2 separate regions of the Homo sapiens genome follow, and region 1 is linked to region 2. Evidence: fine-mapped expression QTL. A gene starts in region 2. The other region holds a variant in brackets. All regions are shown on one strand. Distances are from middle to middle. Region 1 has its middle 380 kb from the start of ESRRG. Region 2 holds the start of ESRRG (estrogen related receptor gamma).

Evidence for each region. PIP is the estimated chance that this variant, and not a neighbour inherited with it, causes the effect.
Region 1: its variant is fine-mapped to the expression of ESRRG in pancreas (GTEx, PIP above 0.99).

The regions. Positions count from the first base shown.
Region 1 is chr1:217,096,478-217,101,863 of GRCh38, reverse strand. It overlaps a transcript of ESRRG not described here. Among named protein-coding and RNA genes, the nearest start is that of ESRRG, 380 kb to the right of the region's middle. The variant T/A (reference allele first, on the strand shown) is at 2,376.
Region 2 is chr1:216,721,332-216,726,717 of GRCh38, reverse strand. ESRRG (estrogen related receptor gamma) reads left to right here and starts at 3,289. Exons shown (of 7, transcript NM_001438.4): 1 at 3,289-3,474. The coding sequence starts at 3,419.

The sequences.
Region 1 (5,386 bases), 380 kb before region 2:
TTGCCCTTCAGCCTGGGCAACAAGAGTGAAACTCTGTCTCAATAAATAAACAAATAAAATAAAAAAAAAAATAAAATGTTGTTTTAAACCACAAACACATACACACACAAGAATGGAAAGAAAACTTGTTGAGGTAGAATCAACATGACTTTATAAACTAAATGAATATGCATGTGGGTGTGTGTGTTTGCTGATGTGGGAGGTGGAGTGAGGTAGGAGAAAGCATTTGAGATAGATTTGGTTTGGAAACTAAATGATCCTACAGATGATGATACTTTGAACCAAGACTAGGAGCCAAGGAGCTAGAACCATTTAGGAAGTTGGGCCAATAATTAATTCAATTTTCTATCTTATCAGTTTGAAATGCTGATGGGCATCTATGTACTAATGGTAAGGAAAGAGGTTGAGATTTCTGACCTAGAATTAATGATTTAAGGATCATTAACACATGTGTCAAAAATAATAACTGATATTAGTTGAAAGCTATGATCACTGTGCTAAACATTGCATATACATTGTCTCACTGAATCCTGTCAGCATCCCTAGGAGGTATTAGCTACATTTCACAGATGGGGAAAACTGAGGCACAGACCGATTAAGTAACTTGCCTTAGGTTACCTGATTAGGTGGTCAGGAAGGGTTTGACTGCAGGCAGTTTTATTCTGGAGCATGTGCTCCTTATTCTTTTTTGTTCTGTCTCCAAAGAAAAAGTTGAAGTCATGAGGTTGGCCAAAAGAACCTGGCAAGAAAGAGGATGTGTCTCATAGAGGCATGTTTTAGGCTAACCGTCAACACTTTTTGCTTGACTTTCTCATTACCAATAGGTTACTCTTTGTAAAACAAATGGTAAGGGTTCCAAAGATGCTATGTCAGTGAATGAATGATTAGATGTTAGAGGTTCAGGCTTTGTGGCCATAAAGTAGAGGAAGACTAATGATATAGTTTGGATGTCTGTCCCCTCCAAATCTCCTGTTGAAATGTAATCCCCAAGGTGGGAGGTGTTTGGATCATGGGGGCCGATTCTTTGAGAGTGGCTTTGTGCCATCCTTGGGGTAATAAGTAAGTTCTCACTCTGAGTTCATCCAAGATCTGGTTGTTTAAAAGAGAGTGGCACCTCTTACTTCTCGCTCTTGCTCCCACTCTCGCCATGTGATGTGCTGGCTCACCCTTCACCTTCTGCCATGATTGTAAGCTTCCTGAGGCCTCACCAGAAGCAGGTGCCAGCACTATGCTTCATGTATAGTCTGCAGAAATGTGAGCCAAAATTAAACCTCTTTTCTTTACAAATTACCCAGTGACAGGTATTTACAGCAATGCAGAAATGGGCTAATACAACTAACTGGCTCAGGATAAGGTTTAGCCTCCAACCCTGTCCTCCAGCAAGGCACTCTAACCCACAGTTTGTGAAGAAAACTAGATGAGGGATAAGTAGGATTGGAAAAGATACTGTCAAAGGGCACCTAACAGAATCACCTGGGGTGATCCATCATTCAAAGACAAACTCCCATTTCCAGCCCTGACCTATTATAGAGTGTTGGGGTCAGCCTGGCATGCTGTGCTTTTAACAAGATATCTTGACTATATTGACCACCCAAGTTGGCTTGGGAATGAAATGTATTTTTGTCATATAAAGTACAGCCTTAGAGAAATGATACTGGTTTTCTGTATGAGTCCTAAACCATCTATGAAGGTGATTTTAAAAGAGGAATTCCCAGAATGTCTAGAGCAATCTCAGGATCACTAAAGTAATTACATAGCTTCCCCAAGTGACTATTTTGAAGGGAAATACTTATTTGGATTTGCAGTTTCTAGTGTGTTTAATAAATACCACTTTCATTACCAAAATAATTCACTTCACAAATGCGTTTTTTTTTTTTTCTGGATAAAAAGAAAATGTAACGGAACGGAGCATTCATCCAACATTATTACTACGGATTCTCCACTTCATTGTTATTCTCCGTGTTTGGAGAGGAACTGGTCAACTGGGTCATTTTCTGAGCTTGATGGGCCATCATCACCCCTGCTTATGTTTGAATTGCTCACAGCACTTTGACCTTTACAGAGAAAAGCTCCACCTGGATGCAAAGCATTGTTATTGTGTAGTGGAGCCCTTGTACAATTGTGGGGAGGATCCAACTAACACCTGTGTTACAGTCTGGCTGCCGTTAGAACTCTAGAGAATGTTTCTCAGAATCATGGTTTCACTGATGGAGAATCTGAATCCAGACAATGATGACCATTTTTGCACCAGAGATCTTCTGAATTTTTATATCTCAGCCTGGTCTGGTGTTGGTGGCTAGAAAATAGCATCCTGGGCTGATGTATTGGTCCTTGGTACAATTCATGGCTATCCACATTATATTAGATTTCATAGA[T/A]ACTGTTGGAAATATCTAGCACATGTGCTTTATCCCACAATAATTACATAGAAAATTAAAAAGAATTAATTCTAATGTAACCATCTTTTTACTTGACTTTTTTTTTTTTTTTGCTCTGCTCACAGGTCTAATTGTTGTTATTCTCACTTTATTTTTCTATAAGGTAGGAATAATATCCACTTCATTAGCTCATCATGAGGGATAAGTAGGATTGGAAAAGATACTTTCAAAGGGCACCTAACTGTGAAGAAGATGCCTTCATTTGCATTTCTTTCTTGGCACATTTCTTGTTATCCAGTCATTCATTAGGACTCCATGTTTATTGAACACCTACTCTGTGCCAGGCACTTTTCTCTGTTCTGGAAATATCACCATGTAAAAACAAATAGCTGAAGAATGCCCTGCCCTCATAGAGCTTACAGACATAGAAGACGAGACAGTAAACAAAATAAATGAGTAAATTATGAAGTGTATTAGAAGGTGTTAAGGGCTATGGGGGAAAAGAATAAAGCAGGAAAGTAGGTGAGGACTGGGCTGCGGGCAAGGTGATGTTTCTGTTTTAAATCAGGTGACATAGGTAGTCCTCCCTAAGAGGGTGCTACTTTAACAAAGTCTTGAGGGAGCTGAGGAAAACCATGGCAACATATATCAAATCACATTCCATGGGATGTTAGTCCTGAGAAATGCTGAGTTAAAAGTGGTTTCACTGTTCAATCGCTTTGGAAATAATAAGTTTTGGAAACTTAGAATGATTGTAGGCACATTAAATAATTTGAAAAAGCCTGCTGGAAAGGAACCTGTTTAACTCAAAACATAATGAGCAGTATTTCCCTCCCTCCCTTCCACCCTCCTTTTCTTCCTGTTTTCCTTCCTAATCTGATAGAGCAGCTAGACCGTTTCTCTGTAGCAACCTTCAAATGTGGATACACTCCTACTTGCCCATCATCAGTGGAGCTTCTGAGGGGCTCCAGGAAAAGAGCATCGATTCTGGAATCCCGGATCTCAGTATGAGACTGGAATGTGCCACTTTGTCCCTGAGCAAGCTAAGCTTTCTTTTTGGCTTTATCATCTATAAATTGGGCATAATAATAATGCCAGCTATGCAGGCTTGTTGTAAAGAGTAAATAAAATCAGGTGTTAAAGCACTTTCTAAATGGTAAAATACCATAAATATGAGTGTTTTATGATGTACTTTTTCACTTGCTTTTTGGTACTCAGAGAGTCAATTCACTGTGATGACTCTGTCTAGGGTTCATTTATAAAGAGCTTGCTGATGGAGGGTTGAAGGAGAAGGGATAAGCTTTATGGGTCTGTGAAAGTGTAAAGAACTTTCATGTTCTGGACAAGAATCCAACACTTCAGCCTTATTTGCATCAGGCTCCAGTCCATGAAATTAACTGGCCACAGGCCCATTTCCCTACATTTGCCAGTGACTCTCAAACTTTGAAGCACACTAGAATCACTTGGGGATTGTAAAGCAATACTATTGCCTGGTTCCCACCCTCAGATGTTTGACTAATTGCTATGGGGTGTGACTGGGGCATTAGGATTTTAAAAAGCTTTCCAAGTGATTCCAATGTGTGGCAAAGTTTAGGAACCATGGTCATAAACTAATCCCTGAGATCATCTTTTTTTTTTTTTTTTTAAGCAGCCTGGCCAAAAGAAATACTTACAAATTGATCATGGTTGCAAATCGATGAACTTGATTCTTTTCTTATGGGAAGGTAAGCAGTTAGGAAGAAAGAAAGGAAGAGAGGGAGGAGAATTGCTTTTATCAGCTGCCTACTTTGACAAGGGATTATGCCATCACATGCATTATCTCATTTAACTTTCCCAATAACCCCGATACTTAAATATTATAAAATTTCCATTTTGAAAGTGAAATACACAATCAATGAGAGCTTAGGAAAATTCCTCAGGAATTTGAAAACAGGACATTCGGTTGTGCAGCCCTCCTTTACATTTACAGTGGCTTCTCCTGCTGTCATTTTCTTTTTCTTAGCTTTCTGGCAAAGCCTGGTATTGAGCATTTACATATCAGTGTCAAATGAAGTCAGTGTTATTTTCTTGCCCGGAAAGTCAGCCTTTGAGTTTTAAGTCTGATTGGGAAATGACAGACTTTATTCCCTACAAGAACTGTACACATAAGAGTAAACAGTAAATTTAGGAGTTTTATAATAGAGAGGTGCCTTTTTTTTAATTTTTAGAGGGGGTGGAGTGCAGTGGTGAGATCACAGCTCACTGCAGCCTCATCCTCATGGGTTGAAGGAGAAGGGATAAGCTTCATGGGTCTGTGAAAGTGTAAAGAACTGTCATGTTCTGGATAGGAATCCAAAACTTCAGCCCTATTCGCAATCCTGATCCTCCCACCTCAGCCTCCTGAGTAGCTGGGACTACAGGTGCACATCACGACACCCAGCTAATTTTTAAAATTTTTGTAGAGATGGGGTTTTGCCATGTTGCCCAGGCTGGAGAGGTGCCTTCTAAGCAAAGCATCTGTATGTAGCCTACAGCCTAGCAGTAAGGCTAGCCCAGCTTTTTTCCATTTTCCAATTCATCTTAAGCATTTTCAGAGAATTGGAACAGATGCAGGCAAATGTTCTCCTTGATCATTGTTTATTCATTTAGTATTTATGGAGCATCTACTGTGTGCTAGGCACTAGGAATAAAAAAATAACTAAAACATCTTTTACACAAAAGGCAGCAAAGACAGTCATATTAATAATAATTAAAGCATAAATACAATGATATCAGTTTGTGGATGGAAGTAGAGACAAAGGAGAGATTAACCTCAGTGGGCTGTCATGGGGAGGACAGTGGGAGGAGTCATCCTGGAGGAAGTTAATCAAGGAAATGGCTTTTTAAACATGTGATTGGGTTCAGTCAATCCACCCCTTTGGCGACTCGTAAACACCAGTGCTCTAAGGATCGTTACCTGAGGATTGTTGGAGGATGATAGGGCAGTTACTAAGAGGAAATCCAGGTTCTGGGAAGTTGAATGACTTGCCCAG
Region 2 (5,386 bases):
GCATAATAGACTGATATTAACTAATTTATTAATATTCTTTGTGAAGCAATCATGAGAGATCCTTTTGTTTGGTTCAGTTTTTCTTGATTTGGGTAGACTCCTTGTGGTAAGATTGTGAAGTGTATAGACTGGGAATATATGTGTATCCTAGGCTGTTTATCTGTTTGTTTGTTTATTTGTTTTTCCAGATTTTTTTTGTAATTGAGATTCTTGAAGGTTTAAGCTCAGTATTACTCATGGCACATTTATTTCCCATGATTATCCATTGTTTTCTCCTGCAAGGTGAGAAAAATCTGGGACCAGGGAAGTTTCTTGAGATGACTGAGCTGTGTATTTGTAAAATATTCTGGAAGCTGTCTCACAAGTTTAGTGAAGAGGATTTTTAAAAATTTTAAATTGGTTAAACTGGATTCAAGACAGTAAGTACAGTCTTTAGGTCCTTGACTTGTACAGGTGATACTTTGATCCCAAGGGGAAAATATCCAAGTCTACAAACCTAGTACACATCTGGTCACTCAGAAAGCAGCGAGTTCAGTGAACACTGCACCTTGCGTAGATGAAATATGGTTAGTGAAAAATCAGTGGGGATGACACTATGTATGTTTGTACATGTATCTCTGTGAGCACAGAACAATGACTTACGCATGAGTCTAAATATCTTTAAAAATATACACCAGTGAAGTCAAATGGATCATAATGAGGGCAAATAAGTACCCAAAGGGAAATAAGAAAATGATGGGAAATTAAAGATCACTTGTACGACATTTGGTGACTTGAGATCCACCGGTAAATACACTACAAATCTTGTCTTTAAAAAGCCATTTCAAAGGAGTAATAAAGAGGTTCTGTCACAGCATAATGTAAAGAAACTGAACACAGTACAGGATTCTGCACCGGTGCAAAATCGGAATGCATTCTTTGAGTACATTAAGATGCATTGAGTACATTAAATAATTTATATTTTTTAAAGAAATATCCATAGCCAAACCAAGAAGGAAAGTTTCTTTCTTTTTTGTGTGTGTGTGTATCTTTTTTAAAGTATGTGCAATTGAATCTATTAATTACCCTGAGAATTTTAGTTTATTCAGAAATCACGATAGTAATCATATGAATCAAAGGATGTTTTTCTGTCTTTGTAATGCAGTATTAGCTTCCATATTTCTTTGAGTGTATTTTAGAAAAATCATGTTTCTTTTGCAAAATGCCTGTTTTATTTATTTTTTAATTGTAAAATGATTACGTGTCTTATTTTAGATTGAATAGACAATTTTTTTTTTCTCTCAGTGTCTGCAGAATGCTTGGATTTTCTTCTACATCTCAAAGCTCTTTTAATTCACTGCTCACAACCAAATTTACATCTTAATTGCAGAGTTCACATTTAACAATATAGACAGCATAATGCTACTGGTAATTAAGCTTTTACTACCTGCTTTTATACAGTATTCTGAGGCACAGTTTTTGCTATGTGAGTTCTGATCTAGAAACTTTGTATGCATTTAGAACACAAATAAAAGGAATTAGGCCTATATCTTAGATATAGCTAAATACAAGGCAGTGAAATTGCTTTCTTCTGTGGGGGGACCAAATCATGTCTGTCATTTTTATATTCTGAATTTTAATGTGGCTGCTCTATTTTAGTGTTTTGGTTTTTTAAAGACCTAGAAAATTTGAGAGGGTTAAGGGAGTTGAGTCCTAATTTAGTGAATTTAACATACGATGAATATCTGAACTAATTTATTTTGATCTCAAAGATTATACTATTTCTATCATGTAGGACTTAAGATGTAAAAGGTTGATAAGCAGTAGAGCTGAATTATATCAAAATTGTGGGTTTTTCACTCTCCATAAGGTAGCAGTTATCTCTTTGCCATAAATAGCTGGTATCTATTCCAATGTACATTTGCTAGTATAAAAAAATCCTGTAGATTAAAATAGGACCTAAGCAAACTCTTTGTTATATGGAAATTAAAGACACGGTGTACACAATTGAAGGAGGAAAAAACACACTTGTCCTCTTATATCCTCCTTTTATTTTTATTTTTTTGAACACTTTTGATTGAGAATTCTTAGTTTTGTAAATTATTATCTGTTTGAAACTAGTTCTTATAGTGACCAGACTGTGTGATGGTTTATAAAATGTTTCTGGGTTGATTTTTTTAAAGCATATAGGGTGCCTTATGTATAGAAACAAATGTGTACACTGTGTTTTATTTGAAAGCAGGATGTTTTGGGTAAAATCATATATAAAATTATATGCCTCCTAGTTTGGAAGCTTGTATTGAAATATATACATATAATTAAGAATACTTTTAGTGCACTGTTTAGTAATGCTCTCCCTACAAAAAAAAAAAAAAATGCTGTCTTTATTTTGTCAAAATGCATCGAGAGAGATTTAATTCGCTATTTACCCCCACAGCCCTCAGACTCCCCACCCCTAAAACTGAAGAAGCCAATTTGTCCTGCGGCTGTTTACCGTTGTTTTGAAAAGCTATGCGTTGTATCTATATGTAAAGAGACAGTCGCAGGTATAGAAAGGTTTACACATATAATTTACTTAGGCATTCTTTCAAATTGTATTGTCACTATCTCCTCTTCTGTAGTTGTGTAAAACTGCATTCCACCTCAGAGATGACGATCCCAGTTCACATGCTCAAACAATTTAGAAGAATGCCTTTATTATTATTATTTTTAATGCCCAGCATACATCAGGAAAACAGGAAAAGACATGATTAGGAATACATGAGAAAGTACAGCACCAAATAAGCCGCGGCCCCCGGTGTAATAAAAACACAGACAACGGCAGGACAAACTTAATTCTCTACCTTCCGCAGAATCCTTTCCCAAATTAACTGAGAGTCTGCGTGAGTTCTCCTTTTCAAGGCAAAAGAGATCTTAGGTTAGAAATCAAAGGCAAATCCCTCCAGTGCTTAGAGAGTTAAGTTAGTTATGTTTCTTTTGTAGCTTCCCAGAAGAAAAAAAAAAGAAAGAGAGAGAAGGGAGGAAAAAAAATCAAACCCGAGAGTGTGTATTGGGAGCGTTTCAATCGCTCCCTTCTCCGCTCCCTTTTTCTCTGCCCACTCTCAGTTTCCAGCCCCCTTCGGCTCTCTGCACCCTGCCTACCTGCCTGGCTCCTCTCGCTCCGTGCAGCCTCCCGTCGCCTCCCTCCTGATTGGGCAGAGGCCCCCCAATCGGCTGCGCGGCTGGGCCGGTGGGACTGCATATGTAAAGCCCTACTTCATATTAATAAGCTCCAATCGGGGCTTTAAGTCCTTGATTAGGAGAGTGTGAGAGCTTTGGTCCCAACTGGCTGTGCCTATAGGCTTGTCACTAGGAGAACATTTGTGTTAATTGCACTGTGCTCTGTCAAGGAAACTTTGATTTATAGCTGGGGTGCACAAATAATGGTTGCCGGTCGCACATGGATTCGGTAGAACTTTGCCTTCCTGAATCTTTTTCCCTGCACTACGAGGAAGAGTAGGTACCTTTTTTCTTTCCTTTTTAAACTCGTCGTGGGGGTGCGGGGGTGGGGGCGGACAGACTATATCTTTACACACTGATTCAGGTAATGCCCTGGGTATTTTGTGTGCACGACTGCTTGTTTGTGTCTGTCTTGTGTCTTTTGTGTTGAGGGTGATCTCCTAATTCAGTAAGTCGAGAATTGTTCTCTGACTACAATGTTACCTTTGAGGCAAAGCTCAGTGACTGTCAGTAAAACAGCTGTGTGACAGTCACTTCTTATTCAGGTGCTAAGAATAGGCACTTGGCACAAATGCTTAGTGAACTGTTAAAATGCATCTTTTACTAGGACCCATTTTCCCAAGGAAAGATGTTTTAAAATACAATATTCAAAATGATTTATACTATTGAGGGCCTCTTATGTATTTGCAGTTTGACAGATATTTTCAGCTCCTTGTCATTTCTTACCGCGCAGAGTTAGAGGCAAAATTGCACATTTACTAATTCTCCTTCAGAGAACAATTTAAAAGCTAGCCCTATGCAATTCTGAGCTAGAATAATGTTATTTGCATGGTTAGCGTTAAGTCAGCACTTAACTGACAAATCAGTCCATTAAGTAACATGAGATTTTCACACATTATAAATATTTAAGGGGGGAAAAAAAACTAAAGAAGAAACAGTAGTGACTTTAAAATTTTCCCCTTAAATACTGCTCAGAGTGTGGATTTGTCTCGTTTGTTGTGTCCAGAAAATATAGAAAAGTACTTTCGTTCTTACAAGCAGTTTAATTAGTATTTATGGATATCTTTATGCACATGGAAATATATATTTAGATTACTAAAGGGGGGGGAGTGAGTAGGGGGTACGAGAAGTAAGTTAGGCATTTTTGTGTAAATGAGTAGGTGATAAACTTAATTTCAACCTACTGTTAAGATAAAATGTTAGTATATCACGAGAGCTGTCACTGGTTTATCTCCCTTTCTGTTGAGTCAGTTATATTGCTTTGCTTTCACATTACAGTAATACCAACTGTTATAATTCTGAAAAGAGTGCCCTTGGCAAACATTTCTCTCTATAGATTGTGAAGAAAATATCAAACTCTAGAAGATGAGGTAGTGCATTATAGGTAGATGTCCACTAGCTGTCCTTAGTGACTGCATATTGCATTGCTTTGTAATTAAGTAAGAGATGAAAAGTGACTTGCAGTCTCAGTGGCTGCTCCTGTATGTTTGAGCGTGAGTGTGAGTGTGTGTGTGTATGCACGCTCACACATGCACATCCACCCACATCCATGCTCACACAGGGAATATTAGCCAAGAGATGGATTTAGGAGGAACTGAAAGATTATAAGGCTGTGCTTGCATCAGTTTGAAACACTCAAGGGAAGAAACAACCTTAAGATGTGTAAAAATAAAAATGAAAAATAAACAAAGGTAAGACTGCCCGCTCAAGTGTAGTTTGAAGGTTAGTGTACTTCGGGCTGTAGAATTGGAGAGTTTAAGACGTCTTCGTGTCAGGAAGAATGTCTTATCCAAGCACGCCCAGATTCTGAACTTTCTCTTGTAAATAAATAAAGAAAACAAACTTTAAAAATCCCCCAGAGGCTTCTTTTTGAAGTAGTTTCCTTGAATTTAACTTCTTATAGCTAATTTGAATAATTCGTTTAGATAAGCCTCTTAAAGCAGATGCATTTAAATGAAGTCAAGGCACATGTCCTTTTGGCTTTGGCGCAAGATTCAAACTAGCTTTCTTTTGGGCTCAATTAAAAGTCATCTTTAAAAAATACAGATTTATTGTCTGGATGCAGTTCTGATGGTTACGTGGTTCACTGGACAGACAGAAAGATCTAACGCTAAGCAACGCATCTGCCTCTCTGTCTCAATTAATAAACCACAGAATTTATACATGCTATTAATATTCATAGTAATTG